Regions from separate parts of the Homo sapiens genome. Here all the other regions are linked to region 2. The links come from fine-mapping of genetic effects on plasma protein levels. Region 2 holds a variant in brackets. A gene starts in each other region. All regions are shown on their reverse strands.

Region 1 (8,179 bases), not on the chromosome of region 2:
CAGGATTGCTTGAACCCAGGAGGCGGAGGTCAGAGGTTGCAGTGAGACGAGATCGTGCCAATGCACCCCAGCCTGAGAGACAGACCGAGACTCCATCTCAAAGAAAAAAACAAAAAAAGGCTGGGTGCGGTGGCTCAAGCCTGTAACCCCAGCAATTTGGGAGGCCGAGGCGGGCAGATCACCTGAGGTCGGGAGTTTGAGACCAGCCTGGCCAACATGGAGAAACCTAAACCTCTCTACTAAAAATACAAAATTAGCCGGGCATGGTGGCGCATGCCTGTAATCCCAGCTACTAGGGAGGCTGAGGCAGGAGAATTGTTTGAACCCAGGAGGCAGAGGTTGTGGTGAGCTAAGATTGCATCATTGCACTCCACCCTGGGTAACAAGAGTGAAATTCCATCTCAAAAAAAAAAAAAAAAAAAAAAAAGTAATGGCAGAGGCTGGGAGCGGTGGCTCATGCCTGTAATCCCAGCACTTTGGGAGGCCAAGTCGGGTGGATCCCTTGAGGTCGGGAGTTCGAGACCAGCCTGGCCAACATGTCGAAACCCCGTCTCTCCTAAAAATACAAAAAGTAGCTGGGCATGGTGGCAGGCATCTGTAGTCCCAGCTACTCAGGAGGCTGAGGCAGAAGAATCACTTCAACCCAGGAGGCAGAGGTTGCAGTGAGCCGAGATTACACCACTGCACTCCAGCCTGGGTGACAGAGGGAGAATATATTTAAAAATATAAAATAAAATATAGGCCGGGCACGGTGGCTCACGCTTGTAATCCCAGTACTTGGTGAGTCCAAGTTGGGTGGATCACCTGAGGTCAGAAGTTTGAGACCAGCCTGGCCAACATGGCGAAACCCCATCTCTACTAAAAATGCAAAAAGTAGCCAGGCATGGTGGCAGGCATCTGTAGTCCCAGCTACTCAGGAGGCTGAGGCAGGAGAATCGCTTCAACCCAGGAGGCAGAGGTTGTAGTGATCGAGATCGTACCACTGCACTCCAGCCTGGGCGACAGAGAGAGATTCCCTCTCAAAAAAAAAAAAAAAAAAGTAATGGCAGAAACCGCAATTACTTTTGCACCAACCAATATATAAAAATACATTATATATTTAAAAATATAAAATAAAATATAGGCCAGGTGCAGTGGCTCACGCCTGTAATCCCAGCACTTTGGGAGGCTGAGTCAGACAGATCACCTGAGGTCAGGAGTTCAAGACCAGCCTGGTCAACATGGCAAAACCCTGTCTCTACTAAAAGTACAAAAATAAGCCAGGCATGGCGGTGGGCGCCTGTAATCCCAGCTACTCAGGAGGCTGAGGCAGGGGAATCGCTTGAACTCCGGAGGCAGAGGTTGCAGTGAGCCAAGATCGTGCCACTGCACTCCAGCCTGGGCAACAAGAGCGAGACTCCATCTCAAAAAAAATTAATTAATTAATTAATTAATTAAAACAAAATAAAATAAATATATGTACTTAAAATATATATATATATTTATTTTTAAATAGGGATAGGATCTCTCTATGTTGACCAGGCTGGTCTCGAACTACTGGCCTCAAGCAATCTTCCCATCTCAGCCTCCCAAAGTACTAGGATTGCAGGCATGAGCCACTGCACCCATCCCACCATTTGTAATTGTGGGCGGCAAGCCACCCAGGTGCCAAGGCAAGAGACTGAGGACACGAGCTGTTCCAGTATAATAAAATATAAAACAAGAATAGTTATACCAAATATAGATCTTAGAGATATATGAATATCATTAATCATTAGTTTGTAGTAATTACTCTTTATCCCAATAGTATAATAATCCTCGGTCTACAATCATAACCTAGGAAAAACCAGGCCATACAGAGATAGGAGCTGAGGGGACATAGTGAGGTGTGACCAGAAGACAAGAGTGCAAGCCTTCTGTTATGCCCGGACAGGGCCAGCAGAAGGGCTCCTTGGTCTAGCGGTGACGCCAGCGTCTGGGAAGACGCCCGTTGCCCGAGCGGACAGTGGTCTAGCGGTAGCGAAAAGTGTCAAGGAACAACACCCACTACTTAGCAGACCGGGAAAGGGAGGCTCCTTTTCCCTGGGGGAGTTTGGAGAAGACTCTGCTCCTCCACCTCTTGTGGAGGGCCTGACATCAGTCAGGCTCGCCCGCGGTTATCTGGCAGCCTAACCGTCTCCCTGTGATGCTGTGCTTCAGTGGTCACGCTCCTAGTCCGCCTTCATGTTCCATCCTGTACACCTGGCTCTGCCTTCTAGATAGCAGTAGTCATTTAGTGAAAGTACTAAAAGTCTCTGATATGCAGAAATAATGGCATAAGCTGTCTTTCTGTCTGTCCCCTCTCTCTCTCTCTGCCTCGGCTGCCAGGCAGGGAAGGGCCCCCTGTCCAGTGGACACGTGACCCACGTGACCTTACCTATCATTGGAGATGACTCACACTCTTTACCCTGCCCCTTTTGCTTTGTATCCAATAAATAACAGCACAGCCAGACATTCGGGGCCACTACCAGTCTCCGCGCATTGCTGGTAGTGGTCCCCCGGGCCCAGCTGTCTTTTCTTTTATCTCTTCGTCTTGTGTCTTTATTTCTACACTCTCTCGTCGCCGCACACAGGGAGAGACCCACTGACCCTGTGGGGCTGGTCCCTACAGTAATTTTAAAGGGAAGAGCAACAAACTTTCGGTTTGCAGGGCTGGGACTGTTTACAGCTGCAAAATTTAGAGAGGACATCAATCTATTATTATCCACATTTTACAGCTGGGGAAATCAATGCTAAGAGAGGAAATTCATTTGCCCAGAGGTGCACCACCCTGGCCTCCAATGTGCAATTCATGCAATTGTGATTTCCGACCTGGTCCCAAACTAACCCTAAAGTTAGCAGGCCAGAACAGTGCTGCTCAAATAAGTCAGCTTAGTCAAATAAGTCAGGCAAAGGTCGTGTCTTTGCACCTGGAGTCCTGGCCAGGCTGGTAGGTCCCTCCTCCTGGGACAAGTTCACCCTCAGAATTTTCAGCAAGATCATCTCCCACAGCTTGTTAATTGGTTCTTGGTTCTAAGTGATTTTTTTGTTTATTGGTTTAAGAGATGGGATCCCACTCTATCACCCAGGCTTGAGTGCCGTGGCACAATCATAGCTCGCTGCAGCCTCAAACTCCTGGGCTCGAGTGATCCTCCTGCCTCAGCCTCCCAGCCTCAGCCTGGGACCACAGGCATGTACCACCATGCCTGGCTCTAAGTGGCTTTAATGGGGTCCTTCTGAGGGATGTTGGAGTCAGGGCCTGGGGGGAGTTCCCCAGGCCTTCTGGGAGGCCTGGGCTCTGGACTTGACCTCGCCTACTGTCTGGCCCTGCTGAAAAGAAAAAAAAACATGGAAATGGCAGACCTAACAGAATCTGGGCTGTGGTCAGGATGTGGCTGAAGAAGCCACAAGAAAAACATGCAGTCCCCTTTCAGCGGTCATGCCCAGCAGTTGGGTGCCGATAATGGGCCTGATTTCCTGTAGGAAGCCCTGGCTCTCTTGGCCACATGGACAGTGTCTGAGGCTGGCCCTGTTATTCCCCTTTGCAGATGAAGAAACAGGCTCAGAGAGTTTACCTGGTATCCTGGAGTCCCAGGAGCACTTTTTCTGGAAGTAGGAGCTTGTTTCCTGCAGGTGCCAAGACAGAGACCGACATTGTTTGTTGGCTGGGTCGGTCTCCCAGTTTTCAGCTGGCTCCAGTCTCACCTGTTGCTCACACACCCTCCATGTCTCCCATAGTCCCCTCGGTGGGGACAGAGGCACTGGATGAAGCCCTGCTCGTCACCACAGAGACACCTGAACACAAAAACCAGTCCCTGGGGTCAGACCCAGGCCCCGCCCCCAGACCCAGGCCCTGCCCTCACTCCACCACGCAACTGTGCAACCTCAGTTTCCCCAGGTGGAGACCGGACCAACAGTGATGGCCTCTGCCTCTTCAGGTCATAGTACAGATGAATACAGGCTGGCACGGCCTAGGCACTCAGTAACACACAGCAGAGGCACAGGGACTTAAGATGGAGTGTCCCAGGCAGCCACAGTTGGCTGGCACCCAGCTGGGAAGGGCCCAAGGGCTTTTAAAGCAGGGTGAAAAAAAAGCCCACCTCCTTTCTGGGAAACTGAAACTGAAAACCTAATTAATCCTCTGCCTGTAGGTGCCTCATGCAAGAGCTGCTGGTCAGAGCACTTCCTGGAACTTGCTATTGGTCAGGACGTTTCCTATGCTAATAAAGGGGTGGCCCGTAGAAGATTCCAGCACCCTCCCCTAACTCCAGGCCAGACTCTAAAGGGGAGATCTGGATGGCATCTACTTCGTATGACTATTGCAGAGTGCCCATGGAAGACGGGGATAAGCGCTGTAAGCTTCTGCTGGGGATAGGAATTCTGGTGCTCCTGATCATCGTGATTCTGGGGGTGCCCTTGATTATCTTCACCATCAAGGCCAACAGCGAGGCCTGCCGGGACGGCCTTCGGGCAGTGATGGAGTGTCGCAATGTCACCCATCTCCTGCAACAAGAGCTGACCGAGGCCCAGAAGGGCTTTCAGGATGTGGAGGCCCAGGCCGCCACCTGCAACCACACTGTGGTAAGCTCCTCAACTCCTTTGGATGGCCTAGTACTAGGCGGTGGGAGGGACAAGAATCTCTCCCCAGAAATCTGACCCAGGGTGGGTCTCCAGGGAGATGCAGGGGAGGTCCTGAAACTGCTCCTGGGCCCCCACATCAAGGGACCTAGGTTCCCCTACCAGGGTTTGTGGGCCCCTAACCCAGTCCAGGGCACTGGTGTAGGGGCAGGGTGTTAAAACTCTCCAGATCCCCCAAATCGGGGACCTCAGTATCCCCCTGGGACTTAGGTGAATTTATAAATTCTTTCCAGGGCACTGGTGTCGGGGGCCTTGAAACTCCTCGTGGGCACCAGTCCTGGGGGAGTAGAAATCCCTATTCAGGGTTGAAGGGGGACCTCACCAGACCCTGAAAAAGGGGGCTTTTGAAATTTTCACTTCATCCCTAAGAAACTGAAATATTCACCTGGGTCCTGATATGGGGGATCTTGAAACTCTCGCTGGGCATGTCACTTGGGCGGGGAAATCCCACTGCATTCTGGATTTGGTAGGGCCCTCTAACTTTTCTTGGGCCATTGCTCAGGCAATCTGGAAATGTCCACTAAACTTTGGTTATCGATAGCCTCCAAGTTTCCACGTGGGGTGGCCTCAAAACTCCCATTTTGAGGACCCACATGCTTATGGGTGGCCCTGGGAGAGTGTGTGGTTGTGGCTGTTCTTTAAGGTTGGAGACCATGGTGCAGAGAGGGTTGGAAGAAAACCTGAAAGGGGTTTGCATTTAAGCCCCTCTGTCCCCAGGACCTAGGGAGGAGGCCCAGGTCCCAGGGGCAGCAGCCAAACTCCCCAGGCCAAAACCCCAGATTCTAACTCTTCTTAGATGGCCCTAATGGCTTCCCTGGATGCAGAGAAGGCCCAAGGACAAAAGAAAGTGGAGGAGCTTGAGGGTGAGAAAGGGAGAAGGGAGAGGGCCGGGGAGGGGTGAGTCAGGTATGGAAGAGGGGGTGGGGGCAGGGAGACCAGGGCTGGAGGTTGGGGTAAGGGGGAGGTTCTGTCCCAGAGTGGAGCAGGGCCCCAGCATGGCCACATGCTGACCCGCCCCCTGTTTCTGTCCTCCCACCCTACCAGGAGAGATCACTACATTAAACCATAAGCTTCAGGACGCGTCTGCAGAGGTGGAGCGACTGAGGTCAGAGATAGCCTTCCCCCGCTACCCTCCACCTGCCACATTCCTCTCACCCCCACATCCCTAGCCCAAGACCCAGGATCTCCTTTGCTCCCAAAATCCCCATTGCCCCAAGGGATAAAGTTTGAGTCCCACAAAAGGATAACTTAGCCCCTAGGGTCACAGAGCCATGGGTGGCCGCTGTCCATTCCCTCCCCGGTGACTTGGATTGGGGCGGTGCGGGGGGAACTCCCGGGGGCGGTGGGCTTACAGGGAGGGCGGCAGGAGCCAGGACGAGCAGATGCCTGATTTGCCATCTGTACCGCAGAAGAGAAAACCAGGTCTTAAGCGTGAGAATCGCGGACAAGAAGTACTACCCCAGCTCCCAGGACTCCAGCTCCGCTGCGGCGCCCCAGCTGCTGATTGTGCTGCTGGGCCTCAGCGCTCTGCTGCAGTGAGATCCCAGGAAGCTGGTCAGTGAGGAGGGGGCGGCCCCGGGAGGGAGAAGAAAGCTGGGGAAGCGGGGCGGGGAAGCAGAGGCTCCGAAGTCTAGAGAGAGAGGCTGCAGGGGAAGGGACTGGGCGCAGAGGTGAGGGGCCTTGGGGAAGGAGGGAGAATCCAGTGAGAAGGATGCCCTGGATCGGGGACGGGCTGATAGCTGTATGGGGCGGGGCTATCAATGGGGGCGGGTCTATCGATGGAGGGGAGGGGCTTATGGATGGGTGGGGCGGGTCTAGCGATGGGGGCGGGGCTTGGGGCCGGGCTTGGAGCGGGGCCAGTGTCTGCTGCCTCCAGTCTGCCCTGAGTCCCTCTTCTGGTCCTTTAGGCACATCTTGGAAGGTCCGTCCTGCTCGGCTTTTCGCTTGAACATTCCCTTGATCTCATCAGTTCTGAGCGGGTCATGGGGCAACACGGTTAGCGGGGAGAGCACGGGGTAGCCGGAGAAGGGCCTCTGGAGCAGGTCTGGAGGGGCCATGGGGAAGTCCTGGGTGTGGGGACACAGTCGGGTTGACCCAGGGCTGTCTCCCTCCAGAGCCTCCCTCCGGACAATGAGTCCCCCCTCTTGTCTCCCACCCTGAGATTGGGCATGGGGTGCGGTGTGGGGGGCATGTGCTGCCTGTTGTTATGGGTTTTTTTTGCGGGGGGGGTTGCTTTTTTCTGGGGTCTTTGAGCTCCAAAAAATAAACACTTCCTTTGAGGGAGAGCACACCTGACTCTCGAGTTCCTGGAGTATCATCGTTTTAGTACCCAAGCGTTGGGGCCGCCCCTGCAGGTGAGAGTGGACACCCCGTTGACGATGACACCTCCCTTCCCTGCTCCAGGACGTTTTCAGGAGCCCACGGAGTTCGGGGAGGCACCACCCCAGTTCTTCCCAGCCCTTGTCTCTGCTGGGATCAACATAAGAACTATGCACCCTCATCAGGGCTCACCGTTTCCCAGGTGTTGTATTCTCATCTCCTCCCTAGAGCCTCTCCTGATTCCTGGGGATCCAGTGAGGAAACTGAGGCTGTAACTGAGAGTAACCTTGTCTTGCTTCCCTTCCCGCCTGCAGAAAATGCTGGGCTGGGATTTAAACTGGGATCTGTACACACACACAGGCCATGCATTGTCAGAATGTTTCCCCCTGCTTCATCCCCCAGATTCTCTCTCTCTCTCTCTTTTTTTTTTTTTTTTTTTTTTTTTTGAGACGGAGTTTCGCTCTTGTTTCCCAGGCTGGAGTGCGATGGCGCAGTCTCGGCTCACCGCAACCTCCGCCTCCCGGGTTCAAGCGATTCTCCTGCCTCAGCCTCCCAAGTAGCTGGGACTACAGGCTTGCGCCACCATGCCCGGCTAATTTTGTATTTTTAGTAAAGACGGGGTTTCTCCATGTTGGTCAGGCTAGTCTCGAACTCTCGACCCCAGGTGATCTGCCTGCCTTGGCCTCCCAAAGTGCTGGGATTACAGGCATGAGCCACCACCCCCGGCTCTTTTTTTTTTTTTTTTTTGAGACAGAGTTTTGCTCTGTCGCCCAGGCTGGAGTAGAGTGGCACGATCTTGGCTCACTGCAACTTCTGCCTTCCAGGTTCAAGTGATTCTCCTGCCTCAGCCTCCCGAGTAGCTGGGATTACAGTACTACACCACCACACCTGGCTAATTTTTGTATTTTTAGTGGAGACAGGGGTTTCATCATGTTGGCCAGGCTGGCCTCAAACTCCTGACCTCAAGGGATCTACCCACCTTGGGCTCCTAAAGTGCTGGGATTACAGGCATGAGCCATCACACCTGGCCCGATTCCCCAAACTCTTATTCATTCTGCAGTACCCAGCTCTGGGAACCCCTCCCCCAGAGAGTCTCTCTGCTTCTCCACAATTGAGGGCTGCAATCCCGACGGACCCTTCACCTACCTTATTCGATCCTCAAAGATGCCATAGTCCCTTCCTTCTCTGTTATCTTACTTCCTCCAAGTTCTCCCGGAATCCCGGC
Region 2 (8,179 bases):
GAAATTACCTCTTTCATCCCAGAACCTAACTAGGATTAGGTAGAGGGTTGGTGTTTAGTAAGCATTGATTACTTGATTGATAGACTAATTGAATTTATTTCTGAAAGTGTCTGGAATAAGCGTTGAAAACACATGACGTATTGAATTGTGTTGCCAGGCGTTAGAGAATGGATGAATGATGAAAATAAGATTTCCAAATTTGCTTTTTTGAAGGCTTAAAATAGCATTTAACTAAGTAATCAAGACTTCTATAAAATGGTCTTGTATTTTCATTCTTTTTCTGTTTCCCCATAGACATTTTCTACTTGATCTATTATTTTAATTTAGGATTCCCACCCCATTTCCTAGCCCCTGCCCGTAATTACAGCAGGCCTTCTGAAAATGACTTTATACATAGGTTTGTGTCCAGCAAGTACCCAAAAACTTATTCATTCATTCACTCATTCATTCAGTTTGAATTTATTGAGTGGCATCTTTGTGCCGGATGCCATGCTAGTGGTGAAAAGATAGGAGAAAAACACAGAGACTGTTTTGTCCTTTCGTGAAGTTGTGTTGTAGTGTTAATTAGTGTTGATAAAAGAATGTCTACTGTAGGCCAGTCATGGTGGCTTACGCCTGTAATCCCAGCACTTTGGGAGGCCGAGGAGGGTGGCTCTCGAGGTCAGGAGATGGAGACCATCCTGGCTAACACGGTAAAACTCCGTCTCTACTAAAAATACAAAAAAATTAGCTGGGTGTGGTGGTGGGAGCCTGTAGTCCCAGTTACTCGGGAGGCTGAGGCAGGAGAATGGCATGAACCTGGGAGGCGGAGCTTGCAGTGAGCTGAGATGGCGCCACTGCACTCCACCCTGGTGACAGAGCGAGACTCCATCTAATAAGAAAGAGAGAAAGAAAAAGAAAGAAAGAAAGAAAGAAAGAAAGAAAGAAAGAAAGAAAGAAAGAAAGAAAGAAAGAAAGAAAGAAAAGAAAGAAAGAAAGAAAGGAGGGAGGGAGGGAGGGAGGGAGGGAGGGAAGGAAGGAAGAAAGGAAGGAAGGAAAGAAGAATGTCTACTGTATACAAGGGACTATTCTAAATACTAGAGTTTCAGCAATAAATATATGCCATTTTATCAATCATTATAATAAAGCAATCCTTAATGGTAAGGGGGTACCCCTGTACTGCCTTGCTCCTCTTTTAGGATGCTAAGTTACAATTTGGCATTGTTACATCTTAGTTATAACTAAGTTACAACTTGGCACACCCATCAATTTAGGCAGTCATGAACTCTGGGAACGAAAGTGATCATATAAACATTTCCATAGTGTCTTAATAATCAAGCTGAACAGCTAAAGAGAGATGCATGTTTCATCCCTGGCCAGTTCAGAACACAATGCATCTGTAGTCCTGGAGACTCCACACACCTTCCATTTACACAGAAGAACCAGAGATGCCATGACTAGTCCACCTAAGAACAGTCCAGTTCTCCCAACATGAAGTTGAGCACCCAAGTCAATCTCCCCAGGAACATTGTATTGTCTGGCAAATTAGGAAAGATAAGAATTTCATCTGCAAAAAAAAAAGTATGAATAAGAAATTAGCTATGTCAATGTGACAATAAATATTCATTGGGTTAAGACATTAACTTTTTGTGGGAAACTGGTTCTTTAAAATTCTTTTTTAACATACAGGTTTTGCCTCCTGATTTACTTTTATCTGAGAGTTGAACTCTGCTGGGTTAAAAAAATCACCATTATATTTAAATAGCTATCTAAGGTTATTATAAAGGGAAGAAAACATTTTCATTAAACTGTACAATTGTGTTGGTAAGCCAGTGCTTTATGGAAATGTCATTGGTTTCTTCACTGATTTCTGTTGGAAAGAAAAAACATATCAAAGAATTTAGAATATGAAAGCATTGAGTTGTATTATTACCAAATTAATTTTATTTCGTATTTCATAAATTAGTTAACAATGTATTAATAGACTACATAGTGAAAACATCCATCCATTTTTAACTTCACAGAGAAAACTTCGAGTGGGGGAGGGGCATGGGTGAGAATTGTTTTATGACTTGTTGCAGTCTCAAATGTAAATATTCACCTCCCACGAATTTCTGTAATTGTGTTTACATATTGGGATCAATATCTTTACAATGTTTTAGGAGAACATATTAAATTTTTAAAATTATATAATTGCTTCAAAGGGAGCTGATGTACTTTCCAGCACCAAAACTGAGAAGATTTCTTAAAAATTCAGCATCTTGATGAGGCTGCTAAAATTGCACAGATATATGTAGTTCCACATTCAAATTGTAAGAATATGTTTAGGAAATAATGACATCATGATCCTTATATGCTTGGACTCAATAACGGCAAAGAAAGCTTGAAAAATATGATTCCACAGTAAAAGTTGACTTAATAGAATAGTGGTTGAAGAAAATTTTGTGGATAGAATATGCTTAGGGATTTTTAATAACAGCATTTGTTGCCTCACTGGTTCTTTTTAAGGAAATCCTTCCTGATTGCTTCAGTCAAATATATTTAAAGCTGATTAAAGGATGGGGTAATAAAATATGAGAATGGCTGAGTTAAAAGAAGACACTGAAACCAGTCTTATTTACATCTATAGCAATTACTTGTTAAATTAGCAGATGATAATAAAGATGTTACAACATCAGGGAAGCCAAAGAATTTCCATTAGGAGACTAAGAGAGCTAGAAAAAAATGGTAAAAAATGAGCAAAAATCTGCTTAGAAAATGTTGTGGGTGACATGGACTGAATTCACTTGAAATTTACTGAGTTCAAATAGTTATTTTTAACCACTTCTTGCCAGAAAATGAATTTAAAATTGGAGAAAATTATAAGCTATAATTATAGTTCAAGAAGGCAGGATTCAGCCTCTAAATTCAACTGCCTGGGATCAAATTCTACTTCTGCCACTTACTCACTTTGTGACCTCAGAGAGGTACCTAAACATCTCTGTGCCTCGGATTTCTGATCTGTAAATGAGTTAATATTGGTACCTATTTCTGGGCTGCTGGGTTAATATATTCAAGTTCCCTAGAACAGCATGCTTAACTACTAGATGCTAAGACGGAAATATCCCTTGGGTAGAGACCATGCTGTATGTGCTTGTGCAGGTGAGGTGTTTGTAACAATAACTCTTCCCAATCATCCATAATAGTTCTAACACTGAATTAGTGCCAGACATTGTTCCAAAAATGTTAACAAATTTCTGACATAAAAGGTTATGGAATATATTTATAGAACTAGAAAATACATAAATTTGTAGGAAAGAACTAAACAATCCAAATGATACATGTGGAAGATTGGCAAATGTTGAGAAGGACCTTTGATAATATCAAAGTCAATATTTCTTATCTGGGAGGCTGATAGAATCACATGAGATGTTTTACTTTTTCTTTAATATCTGAGTTCCTAACATAGACAAAATAAATCATAATCTTTTAGGGGTGTTTCCTAGACATCAGTATTTTTTAAGGCTTTACGGTTGTTTCTAACATGCAGCTAAGATATAGAAACTCTGAAATTTCTTTTCAGCTGCCTTGTAACCACATATTGTAACCAAGGTCTAGGGAGATGAAGTAAATTGCCTAATGCCACAGAAAGCTAATGATGTCCTGCCTAACTTCTTTCATGTCTAAACATGGCTTGAGTTACTCTTTCCTCCAAATCCTTATTGCTATATTAGGACCTAGGGAAATGCACTGTGACAATGATTACACAAAAGATCCACATTTAAAAGAAATTTACTAATCTAAAAGAGAAAATAAAAGAAGGCTAAAGACTCTAATGAATGGATATAAAAATAATTCTGCCCCATATTTCCAAAAAAAAGATATAACAATAAATTTCCCATAACATTAAAAAAACACAAATTTGAGAAAAATTGATTATAGTAATAATCAACTATGCAAATATTACATAGGAAAAAATATAAATCTGCAGTAGTAATTACTTATTTCATAATGATAATCATGAAGAAAGGAGATAAGAAATGTTTGATTTCCCATTTACAGACTCCATAGATTGAAAAAATATAGCCAGCCCTAGATATACAGAAAGAAATTGGTGAAAATAGACATAACATGGCTGCAGACTAAAGATACTTTCTCTTCTATCCTTTATTCAGGAATGGCTGAG[G/C]TAAAATTTATTTTCTAGGTGTCAGGTTTGAATAATTCAATAGCTTTTAAAAAAAATGGTTCATATTTAAAAGGACACTTGGTCCAGAGATTTTTGTTGTTGTTGTTGTTGTTGTCCCGGAGATTTTTTTCCCTGCCGACTTCAGAATTGCTACAGGTAACATTGCTATTTTCTTCAATGTTTCAATGTAAGCCTTTATTTATACTTATGCTTAATTGCTCAGTTTTTCTAAAGGGTATTTCCTGTTTAAGGTTATTCAGAAGATGTTTGATCTTACTTAATTCTAATTTTCTCTTACAACAGATTGCTGCTGCAGAAAACAATGGAAATGAATCAGGTGTAAGAGAGCTACTAAAAAGGATTGTGCAGAAAGAAAACTGGTTCTCTGCATTTCTGAATGTTCTTCGTCAAACAGGAAACAATGAACTTGTCCAAGAGTTAACAGGCTCTGATTGCTCAGAAAGCAATGCAGGTATTTGTAATTTTACTGAGGAAGATTCTTCAAATTCTGCCTAGTGATTGAGAATTCAATAAAGCAGAAAGACACAATGCTAAACACCAAGATTTTTAGAATCAAAATTTTAAGAGTGGAACATATGTGATAGATCATCTATTTTATCACCTTAACAAATGAGGAAATTGATGCCTGGGAAAATATCAACTGATCAAAGACCATTTTTCATCCAACCAACACTCTTTCTACTACCTTATTTTAAAAACAATATGACTACCAGAAATTTTATCAAGATTATGTAACATTAAATATACACAAATACATTGGAAGAAAGTATTTTAGTGGTTATAAAAAATCTGCTGCATATTCTTCTGAACATTTTTATACATTTTAAGCAATGTATTAAGCATTTGATAAAAGGATTGTTTTGTCAATATATCTCAACCTTACCTAATGTGAGATTTTAAACAGCATTCAATAATAGTAATAACATAACATTTTATAGCTCCTTCTCCTACATTATTTGTAAATCTCACTTAAACTGCTATCTTATTTTTCTTTTCGTAGTATGCATCCTATGTTTCCAAAAATATCATATGAAAGACAAATTGAAAGTTAACTATTAATTAATTATAATCATTGCAGTTTTGTTCTGGTGACCCTAACTAATGAAAACTTTGCTGTAAAAAGTGGGGTGCTGCTGTAACAAACACCTAAACGTGTGGAAGTGGCTTTGGAACTGGGTAATTGATAGAGACTGTAAGAGTTTTGGGTGAATGGTAGAAATATGGGTGTTCAGGGTGATTCTGGTGAGGTCACAGAGAGAAATGAGAAAAATGTCATTGGAAACTGGAAGAAAGGTGATCCTTGTTATAAAATGGGATAAAACTTGATCTCACAAGTAATGGATTTGGATATTTGGCTGAGAAAATTTCTTAGCAAAATGCTGAAGGAGCAGCTTGATTTCCCCTAACTGCTTATAGTAAAATGCAAAAGAAGAGAAATTAATTGAAGGAGTTGTTATGCAAAAAGGAACCAAAATTTAAATATCTGGAAAATTCTCAGCCTATCCATATGGCAAAAAATGAGAAATTGTGTTATAAAGAGAACAACCAATTGATAACAAGATCATGGGTGCTACTGATGGACTTAATCAGCCATTTCAGCAGAAGGTAGGAGTAGAGATATATTATACCAGCAAATACACTTCCAGTTTGAACTGAAGGAGACAGAGAAAGCAGGACAGAATGAGAAAAGGATACTGGACTTTCTGGATTCTACAGAACCAGACCATAGAGCTATTTGGCTGTGAATGTGTACTATTCTTCAGGGAAAGGAAAGAATGCCCCCAAAAGTGATACAGAAGTCATCAGGGTTGCCACTTCCACCACAGACCCAGAGGCCAAGGCAGTTTCCTTTTTGGTTTCAAAGGGCAAAACTGTCTCTCTGGTTTTAGTGAGCCCTCAGGATGACCCTGCCTAGTGTCTCAGAAGCAGAGCTATCCTCACAGAAAGCTGTGTGGATGGAGCCCTTAGAGAGAGCAGGCTGTCTTGCAGAGCCCTAGAACCTGCCATTCCGTGGACCTGGAAGGCAGAGCATCAAACCAAACAGAGCTATTCTCAAGCCTTATAAGCCTTAAGATGTGACAGAATTTACCTTAATAAGTTTTGGATTTGCTTGGGACCCATCACCCTTGCTTTCTTTCCTATATCTCCTTTTTGGAATAAGACGTCCATCCTATGCCTGTCCCACCATTGTATTATGGAAAAGAAACATGTAGCTCAACTGGTTTCACAAGTTCACAGCTGGTGATGAATTTGCCTTATCATGAATCACACCTCTAGTCTCATCTACGTCTGATTTGGACAATGTTTAGGTGAGACTTTTGACTTTAGACTTAGAGTTCATGCTTCAGTGAGTTAAGGCACTTGGGCTGATGAGATGAGATGAATGTATTTTGTATGTAGTAAAGATATGAATTTTGGGAAGCCAATGGTAAAATGCTACAGATGGAATTTTGTCCTCCTAATACTCATATGTTGGAACCTAATATGACTCTATCTGGAGACAGTGATAGTAGGAGATAGTTAAGATTAAATGAGCCAGGCCAAGCGTGGTGGCTCACGCCTGTAATCCCAGCACTTTGGGAGGCCAAGACGGGTGGATCACCTGAGGTCAGGAGTTTGAGACCAGCCTGGCCAACATGGCGAAACCGCATCTCTACTAAGAATACAAAAATTAGCTGGGGTGGTGGCATGCAGCTATAATCCCAGCTACTTGGAAGGCTGAGGCAGAAGAATCACTTGAACCAGGAGGCTGAGGTTGCAGTGAGCCGAGATCATGCCACTGCACTCTGGCCTGGGTGTCAGAGCAAGACTCCGTCTCAAAAAAAAAAAAAAAAGATTAAATGAATCATAAGAATGGGGCCTTAATCTGATAGAATTGTGGCCTTTTAAGAAGAGGAAGAAAGAGAAAAAGAGAAACATCTGTCTCTTTCTCTCTCTTAACCGTGTGAGGACGCAGGGAGAACGTGGCCATCTGCAAATCAAGGAGAGAGTCCTCATCAGACATTGACCCTGCTGTCACCTTGATCTTGGACTTCCAGTGCCCAGAACTGTGAGAAAAGAAGTGTCTGTTGTTTCAGCCACTCAGTTGATGGTGTTTTATTATGGCAGCATAAACAGACTACTGTAGGAGCTTAGACTCTGGGTCCTGATACATATCGGATCCTGATGCTTATCAAATCCAGGCTCCTTCCTTGAATGTGTGACCTTTGGCCAGGTTCTCGACTTCTCTATGCCTCAGTTTACTCCTCAGTAAAATGGAGATAATAATATTACTTATCACCTCAGTAAAATGGAGACAATAATATTACTTACCATCTAGGTTTATTTTGAGACTTAAATAACTTAATGTATGTAAAGTATTTATATTGTGAGTGCAAAATAAATTAACTATTATAATAGTCCCTAATGTACTTAATATCTAACTGCAAACATTGCCAAGTTTTCTTCTTGTCCAAAGTCACAACAGTTTTCTTTAGGAAATTTTCCATACAAAGTGGGGCACATTTTCACTGGGTTCTTTAAGATGAGATAATAAAAAATGATACGTTAGAAAATTTTCCTTATGGCATCAGTCTTCTCTGACAGATTGCAGCTTCATAAAGGCAAAAACTCTTGATTTTCTTTTTAACCCACATAAGCCCTTAATAAAATACCCATTACATGTAGTTGAAGTAAGAAAAGCTGGAAGTGAGGAATGGAGGAAAGAAGAAAAGAGGGGCACAAAATATTTCATTAAATGTTTTAAAAATCCCCAGAAATTCAGAATACATGAATATAGGCTGACATTAAAGCAGATGTACGTCTCGTGCAGAACACACAGTGAGGAAACAAAATGGCAAGAGCAAAGCTAAAGAAAACTACCAAATTTGCATTTTCATTAATTCAGCCTTAAATGTAACTTTGTGTCACTGAATAAGTGACTTACTTCCTAAACATGACGGTCAGACAGGAAATCACTTTTCTTGTGATTAGCATAATGCTTATATTGTTTTTTTAGCTACAGTCTAATCATTA
Region 3 (8,179 bases), not on the chromosome of region 2:
TCTCACTGTTTCAATGATTTCTTGCCTTATAACAAACCCAACTTAGTGGCGTAAAACAAATATTATTATGCTCACAGTTTCTGTGGGTCAGGAACTTAATCAGGGCCCAGTGGTGATGGCTTGTCTCTGCTCCAGCTGGGACCTAGAGTCATCTAAATGCTTCTTCACTCGCATGTCTGGTTCCTGAGCTGGGGTGATTCAAAAGCTATACTGGGACTATCAGATGGAGTACCTATATGTGGTCTCTCTGTATGTCTGGGCTTCTCACACCATTGTGGTTAGGTTCCAGGATGTAGCATCCTGACCGCTTTTCTTTTCTTTTCTTTCTTTTTTTTTTTTTCTTTCTCGAGACGGAGTTTCACTCTTGTTGCCCAGGCTGGAGTGCAATGGCGTGATCTCCGCTCACCACAACCTCCACCTCCCGGGTTCAAGCGATTCTCCTGCCTCAGCTTCCCGAGTAGCTGGGATTACAGGTATGCATCACCACACCCGGCTAATTTTTGTATTTTTAGTAGAGATGGGGTTTCTCCATGTTGGTCAGGTTGGTCTCAAACTCCCGACCTCAAGTGATCTGCCCGCCTTGGCCTCCCAAAGTGCTAGGATTACAGGCCTGAGCCCACGGAGGCTGGCCTTTTTTTTTTTTTTTTTTTTTTTTTTTTTTTTTTTTTTAAGATGGAGTTTCTCTCTTGGTGGCCAGGCTGGAGTGCAGTGATGTGATCTCGGCTCACCACAACCTCCACCTCCCGGGTTCAAGCATTTCTCTTGCCTCAGCCTCCCGAGTAGCTGGGATTACGGGGTCATGCCACAACTCCCGGCTAATTTTTGTACTTTTAGTAGAGACAGGGTTTCACCATGTTGGCTAAGCTGGTCTCAAATTCCTGACCTCAAGTGATCTGCCTGCCTCAGCCTCCCAAAGCACTGGGATTACAGGTGTGAGCCACCATGCCTGGCAGTACACACACATACTTGCACACGTGTGGGCATGAACATGCACAGTTACGCACCTTTGGTTAGACTCAAGTTCAGGCAGACACTCATTTCCATACAAATACATACATAGTCACAGAAGTCAGGCACACACAAATATACACAACGAGTCACAAATTTTGCCTGCATCACCCAGACATCCACACCCAGTCACAGACCCACAATCACACACACACTCAAGGATTCACCTATCACAGAAGGTTCCAATTCCTTGTTGTTTATTTGTGCATAATGTATAAAAGTAAAACAATAAACTCAGCCCTATGTCTCAGTCAGGGCTGCAGCTTCATAAATAAAGGGTGAGAGGAAATAAATTAAGGAAGGAGTAGGGCTCAGCGCATAAATAAGGTGTGGGGTGTCAGGTGGACTCAGGGTGGGTTGACGTTCTCAGACACAGGTTCCCATCGGCCACATATTTGAGGTCTCGCGTGAGGAGGCGGAAGAGGTTGAAGGTGACAGATGCCTCCAGGCAGCCAGCGGACTCCTGTAGGGGAGGAGGGGATGGGTCAGGGGCTGTCCAGGGTCTGGGCTCCTATTGGCTCCCCAGACCCTGGTCCTTCTCTTCCTGGGTCACTCACCTTTTTGGGGGCCTCCTGGAGCCGGTGCAGCCAGTGGTGGAGGCGGCCCCGGGGCCTGGGCCCTGCTGTGGGCTGAGGCTGGATCTGTGGGCAGAAGAGGGCGGTGTGTGAGGCGGAGCCTGGGCCACCACAGGGGAAGGATGCTGCTCAGAGCCCACAGACCTGGGTGCCCGGGCCCCAAGGACTCACACAGGCCTGGAGCTGGGAGAGGATGTGGTGCAGGGTGTGAAGGGGCTGGTCTAGGACGTCCTCCAGGGCTGGGCCAGCAGCGGCCTCCAGGACCTTCAGCGTCAGGGCCAGCTCAGCCTCCAAGGCCACAGGGCGCTCCCTCACCTGAGGAGAGGTGAGAAAGAGCAGGTGAGGGAGAACAGGCAAGAAGACCCAGTTAGTGGGGACAGGTAGGCAGTCCTGGGGAAGGTCGGTGACACAGTGCATGTGGTGGGGACAGGTGAGGGGTCTGGGGAGAAGGAGACAGGAGGGGGAAGACATGAGGAAGGATACAGGTGAGGCAGGATGGTCAAGGAGGCAGGTGAGGGGATAAGTGAAATGGAGACAAATGAAAGGGGACTTACGGGGGTCACAGAAGTTCTCTGGGGCGGGGTGGGGACGGGTGAGGAGAAAGCAGGTTGGGGGCACAGTAAGAGAGGGACAGTTGCATGCACAGAGAAGAAGGGTAGGGCTGGGTGTGGTGGCTCACGCCTGTAATCCCAGCACTTTGGGAGGCCGAGGCGGGTGGATCACCTGAGGTCAGGATTTCGAGACCAAGCCTGGCCAACATAGTGAAACCCCGTCTCTGCTAAAAATACAAAAATTAGCTGGGCATCATGGCACATGCCTGTAATCCCAGCTACTCGGGAGGCTGAGGCAGGATAATTGCTTGAACCCGGGAGGCAGAGGTTGCAGTGAACCGAGATCATGCCACTGCACTCCAGCCTGGGCCATAGAGCAAGACTCTGTCTCAAAAAAAAAAAAAAAAAAAAAAAAAAGAGAAGGGTGGATGAGGGGGGAGCATGAGCTGGATGAATGTCAGTGAGAGATAATGAGGGACAGGTGACAGAGGCAGGTGAGAGGGAGAGGGGGTCAGTGTTGGGAACAGACAGGGAGAAGTGGAGCAGGACGAAAGGCACAGGTGGGCGACAGACTGGAGACATTTGGGAGAGAAATGAAGAGTGAGAGTGGAAGTGACAGGGACAGGTGAGCGAGCTAGGGAAGTGGGGCCGATGGGAGATGATAAAAGGGACCCAGGGGAAGGACAGAGTCAAGAGAGCAGTTTTGAAGTGGCAGGGGCACAGGACAGGTGAGGAGAGGTCCAAGAGAGTGAAGGACAAGGGAAACAAAGAAGGCTAAGGGGCCACTTAAGAAGAGGGGGGAGAGGGTCAAGGGAAGGGTGAAGGGGGCCTGACTTTCAGCTCACCTGGAGAAGCCTCAGGTCCCAATTCCCGGGGAAGACAGGAGAGCTGCAACTCCAGTTTTTCAGCTTGAGTGACTCTTCCTAGAGAGCAAGGGCAGGGGTTAGCCCACAGCAGGATGGCTGGAAGCTAGCTCATAGCAGCAAGGATGAAGTTGGCCTGACAGCATGGGTTTAACCCAGTGCAGAAAGGATAGAGGTTTGCCATAGTTGGAAGGCTAGAGGCTAGCCCACAGTAGAAGGGCAGTAATTGGGACACCCGTAGAAGTGGTTCATCCACAGCAACAGGAACTCACCAAGGCGTCCCTGGCCTTCTTGAAGCTCGCTAGCTCCTGTGGTGACAGAGATTTGAACCTGCCAATGTGGCAGCCCTTCCCAGTTGTGGTGGGCTTGGAAGTGGGGACAGGGCCTGCCACGGCCAAGCCTAGCACCAAAGTCACCAGCACCACGGTCCAAGCTGCAGCCATGGCTAAATCGCAACTGCTTCCCCAGCGGCATGGCTCTGCTTTTTAGCCACGCAAAATGGGCAATCCAAGATGATGTGTGTAAAGTGAAAAGGTAATTGGAAATGAGAATTTCCACTTTGACTTAAGAGGCATGAGTGGGCGGGGCCCGTCTGGGAGCCTGATGAGGGAACAGGTGTGGGCAGGGCCAAGTGAGCTGGGAGCTGCATCAAGAAGGAAAGAGAAACTGAAATCCTTAGAACTCCCTGGGCAGCTTTCAGCCAACTGGCCTCAGGGAGTCCCTGACGGAGGCTGAGATTAGGGATAAGGCTACCTGAGTGGCAGAGAGGAAGCTTCTTTTTTATTCTAAATTAGCCAGGTGTGGTGGCATGCGCCTGTGGTCTCAGCTACTCAGGAGGCCGAGGCATGAGAATCACTTGAACCCGGGAGGCGGAGGTTGCAGTGAGCCAAGATCGTGCCACTGCACTCCAGCCTGGGTGATGGAGTGAGATCCTGTTTCAAAAAAAAAAAAGCTTGTTTTTTATTTTATTGTTATTATTATTTTTTGAGACGTAGTTTTGCTCTTGTTGCCCAGGCTGGAGTGCAATGGTGCAATCTTGGCTCACTGCAACTTCTGCCTCCCGAGTTGAAGCGATTCTCCTGCCTCAGCCTCCTAAGTAGTTGGGATTACAGGTGCATGCCATCACGCCTGGCTAGTTTTTGTATTTTTAGTAGAGACTGGGTTTTACTATGTTGGTCACGCTGGCTTCGAACTCCTGACTTCAGATGATCTGCCTGCCTTGGCCTCCCAAAGTGCTGGGATTACAGGCGTGAGCCACCACCTTACTTTATTATTTATTTATTTATTTTTGTAGAGATAGGGGTCTCACTATGTTGCCCAGGCCAGTCTTGAACTCCTGGCCTTAAGCCATCCTCCTGCTTCAGCCTCGCAAAGTGCTAGTATTAAAGGCATGAGCCACTGCTCCTGGCCAAGAAGGAGCTTCTGCCATTGGTTTAAGAATGTCCCATTAACTAATTTCAGTTCATGCTCCTAATGTTTCTCTGAGTAGTTATTTTTATAATTGTGATGGTTAATTTTAGGTGTCACCTTGACTGGTTAAGTTTATCAGATAGCTGGTGATGCGTTAATTCTGGGTATGACTCTGGGGTGTTTCCAGAAGAGATTGGCATTTGAATCAATGGACTGAGTAAGGAAGACCCGTTGTTACCCAATGTGGTGGGCACCATCCAATTGGCCGAGGGCCTGAATAGAACAAAAAGGCAGAGGAAAGGAGAATTTGCTCTCTCTTATGAGCTGGGACACCCTGCACCTGCCCTTAAACATCAGAACTCCAGGCTCTTTGGTCTTTGAATGCTGGGATGTGCAGCTGGGCATGGTGGCTCACGCCTGTAATCCCAGCAGTTTGGGAGGCTGAGGCAGGTGAATCACTTGAGGTCAGGAGTTCGAGACCAGCCTGGCCAACATGGTGAAACCCCATCTCTACTAAAAATATAAAAATCAGCCAGGCGTGGTGGCACAGGCCTGTAGTCCCAGCTACTTGGGAGGCTGAGGCAGGAGTATCGCTTGAACCCTGGAGGCGGAGGCTGCAGTGAGCTGAGATCATGTCACTGCACTCCAGCCTGGTCAACAGAGTGAGACTCCATCTCAGAAAAAAAAAAAATGCTGGGACTTGCACTAGCTACCCCCTAAGTCCTGAGGCTTTTATTCTGGAACTGAGCTGCACTACAAGCTTCCCTGGTTCTCCAGCTTGCAGATGGCCTGTTGTGGAACTTCTTAGCCTCCCTAATTGTCTGAGCCAATTCCCCTAATAAATCCCCTCCTATCTCTCTCTCATCTATCTAGTCTCTCTCTCTCTCTCTCTCTCTCTCTCTCTCTATCTAGTCTATCTCTCTCATCTATCTAGTCTATATCTCTCTATCTATCATCTATTTATCCAAACATCCTATTTGTTCTGTCTCTCTGGAGAACCCTGACTAATACAATAATCATGCCCATTTTACTAGTGAGATAACTGAGGCATAGGAAGGCAAAGTGACTTGCCTAAGGTCCCACAGTGGGATAGAGGCAGAAATGGGGTATGATGAGTCCTATGTACTTGCTCCCTATTCCATATGCAGCCCAGGTAGAAGATGAGAACCTCTGGGGGTAGCAGGCCCACTTCTCCTTTCTGTCCCTCTGGGTAGCATGAGAGGGGTAGGGAACTCCTTATTCGCTGGGGGCAAGCGCATTTCCTGGGGACTGGAGGGGCTGCCTGGAGAGAAGGCAGGCGGTGAGTCTGGTTGCCTTGCTATCATCATCCCTGCAGTAATAGTAATTGTGTAGCAGGTAAGAAACTGCTCTGATGTGCAGACATTTCCTATTTTCACTCCTTTATTTTTTTTCTTAGCCCTTTGGTGCAGAAAGTTATTAATCATACTCTTCAGATCATAACACAGGATCACAATTGGCCCATGAAAGACCCTCCAAGGCTTTTATTCCTCCATTGCCAATTCCCATTCCCATCGCACCCCCACAGACACCCACTATAATGCACTTGATAAATAGCTGCAAAGATGTATCTTTATAATTTGTGATCTCGTGTGTGTATGTGTTTCCAATTTACATAAGTGGAATTGTGCTATAAATCTTCTACTTCTTTCTTTTTTATTTTTTAACTTAACACTGCTTCTGAGATCTCTTCACAAGCTGTGTACATCAAGTTTCCTGTGCACTGTATTTCATGGTGTATACAACCACAGCACTTTTACTTACCTATTCCCCCAGTGATGGACACTTAGGTTGCCTCTAGCTCCCCATTACCATAAGGCTCACACCTGTCCTCTGGGTGGGCGGCTTTCTGGAATATACGGTAGCACACCAGCTGATGCCCTCTACTGTATCCCCTCGGCTTGTGGATATGGTGGTCAGTTCCCACACAGGCTGACAGTTTCCTGCCTCACGTGCTTGGATCTTTCTGCTTCTCTGCTGGAGACCAAGGCCTTTCTACTGCCCACATGCAGAATGGACTGGAAGTAGCAGGATTGATTCCCCCAGTAGCAGTCCTCAAACAGTGAGGGCTGAAAGCAATGGAATAAATACTGCAGCTTCCCTTTCCCTTGGAGGGTCAATTCTCGGGCGACTTCTACATGACTCCTTGATCTTCTGACTGTCCCCAGAACAAATGACTTCTAGCTGCTCACAGCAGTAGCCTTTTTGGGGGCTGGAATTAGGGTGGGTCAAATTAGGGGACCAGAGTCAAAATTTAAGCAGGGGGCCAGGCGTGGTGGCTCACACCTGTAATCCCAGCATTTTGGGAGGCCGAGGTGGGCAGATCACCTGAGCCCAGGAGTTCGAGACCAGCCTGGCCAACATGGTGAAACCCTGTCTCTACTAAAAATACAAAAATTAGCTGGGTGTGGTGGCATGTGCCTGTAAACCCAGCTACTCAGGAGGCTGAGTCACAGGAATCGCTTGAGCCTGGGAGGCGGAGGCTGCAGTGAGCCGAGATTGTGCCACAGCACTCCAGCCTGGGTGACAGAGTGAGACTCTGTCTCAACAAACAAACAAACAAACAAAAATTAAGGAGGTGCTCACTCTGAGTCAGGGAAGTGCTCTAGGTGCCTCCCTCTACTCCAGACTCTGCACCATTTATTGGCTTTTTGCTCTTCCTGGCTCAGTTTCCCCACTCGCTTGTGCTTCTGGGAAACAGCTCCCAAATAAGCCACCTGCATCTTTGGCTTCAGGATATGCTTTTGGGAGAACCTGAACTGAAGATTGCTGGGTCACAGGGCATACCTGTGCTTATATGGTCTAATCAGTGCTGTTCATTAGAACTTTCTGCAATGACAGAAATATTGTGCATCTTTACGGTCCAATGTGGCTGTTAGGTATTTAAAATTTGGCAAGTGCAATGCAGGAACTGAATTTTCAATTTATTTCATTTTATTTAAATTTAATTACTGTATGTGGCTAGTGGCTATCATGATGGGCAGCACAGCTCTACATATTCATCCTTTGCTCTCCCAAATAGTTGCACCTGTATCCCTCTCTCCAGAAGTGCTCGAGGGTCTATATGCTGGCAATACTGTAGCCTCCCCAACACTTGGATCTGATTTAGATGATGAGATCCTGGGGCTTGCATCTGAGCCTGCCATAGTAGATGAGATTTTTGAGGTTGAGGAAAGACATGAGTCTATTTTGCATGTGGAAGGAATATAAATAATTTGTGGCCAGAGAGCTGACTGTTAAAACTTGTCTTTGGCCTGGCACGATTATTCATGCCTATAATCCCAGCACTTTGAGAGGCTGAGAAGGGAGGATTGCTTGAGCCCAGGAGTTTGAGCCCAGCCTGGGCAACATAGCAAGACCTCATCTCTACAAATTAAAAAAAAAAAAAAATAAGGGCTGGGCGTGGTGGCTCACACCTGTAATCCCAGCAGTTTGGGAGGCCGAGGCAGGCAGATCATCTGAGGTCAGGAGTCCAAGACCAGCCTGGCCAACAGGGTGAAACCCTGTCTCTACTAAAAATACAAAAAATTAGCCAGGTGTGGTGGCGCTACTCGGGAGGCTGAGGCACGAGAATCGCTTGAACCCGGGAAGTGGAGGTTGCAGTGAGCTGAGATCATGCACTCAGCCTGGGTGACAGAGTGAGACTCTGTTTCAAAAAAAAAAAAAAAAAAAGTTTAATCCCCAGTATGGCAATGTTGGGAGGTGGAGCTTAGTCGGAGGTGTTTGGGTCCTGGGGGCAGATCCATTGTGAATG

Which allele goes with the higher level. Alleles are on the strand shown, and positions count from the first base shown. The strength of an association depends on the size of the effect and on how common the allele is.
In carriers of allele G in region 2, the plasma level of the protein whose gene starts at base 4,239 in region 1 tends to be higher than with C alone (weak association).
For the plasma level of the protein whose gene starts at base 3,455 in region 3, G is the high allele of the variant in region 2 and C is the other (weak association).

Evidence for each region. PIP is the chance, under the fine-mapping model, that this variant and not a neighbour inherited with it causes the effect. The UK Biobank Pharma Proteomics Project read protein levels with antibody pairs (Olink). The fine-mapping took linkage between variants from a reference panel, not from the people measured, so its PIPs are less certain.
Region 1: BST2 starts here. The variant in region 2 is fine-mapped to the plasma level of the BST2 protein (UK Biobank, PIP above 0.99).
Region 3: IFNL1 starts here. The variant in region 2 is fine-mapped to the plasma level of the IFNL1 protein (UK Biobank, PIP 0.96).

The regions. Positions count from the first base shown.
Region 1 is chr19:17,401,690-17,409,868 of GRCh38, reverse strand. It overlaps BST2 (bone marrow stromal cell antigen 2), which reads left to right and starts at 4,239. Exons shown (of 5, transcript NM_004335.4): 1 at 4,239-4,578; 2 at 5,432-5,498; 3 at 5,680-5,740; 4 at 6,045-6,189; 5 at 6,543-6,930. The coding sequence starts at 4,294. The coding sequence ends at 6,174. It overlaps BISPR (BST2 interferon stimulated positive regulator), which reads right to left and starts at 4,183. Exons shown (of 4, transcript NR_130766.1): 1 at 4,098-4,183; 2 at 3,573-3,792. It also overlaps a transcript of MVB12A not described here. RefSeq lists enhancers at 2,001-2,527, 3,228-3,277, 3,478-3,527, 3,578-3,637, 3,828-4,207 and 2 more and a silencer at 6,584-6,752.
Region 2 is chr2:162,307,202-162,315,380 of GRCh38, reverse strand. IFIH1 (interferon induced with helicase C domain 1) reads left to right here. Exons shown (of 16, transcript NM_022168.4): 2 at 4,448-4,616. Among named protein-coding and RNA genes, the nearest start is that of IFIH1, 7.4 kb to the left of the region's middle. The variant G/C (reference allele first, on the strand shown) is at 4,145.
Region 3 is chr19:39,291,683-39,299,861 of GRCh38, reverse strand. IFNL1 (interferon lambda 1) reads right to left here and starts at 3,455. Exons shown (of 5, transcript NM_172140.2): 1 at 3,270-3,455; 2 at 2,980-3,057; 3 at 1,755-1,898; 4 at 1,566-1,649; 5 at 1,189-1,471. The coding sequence starts at 3,440. The coding sequence ends at 1,346.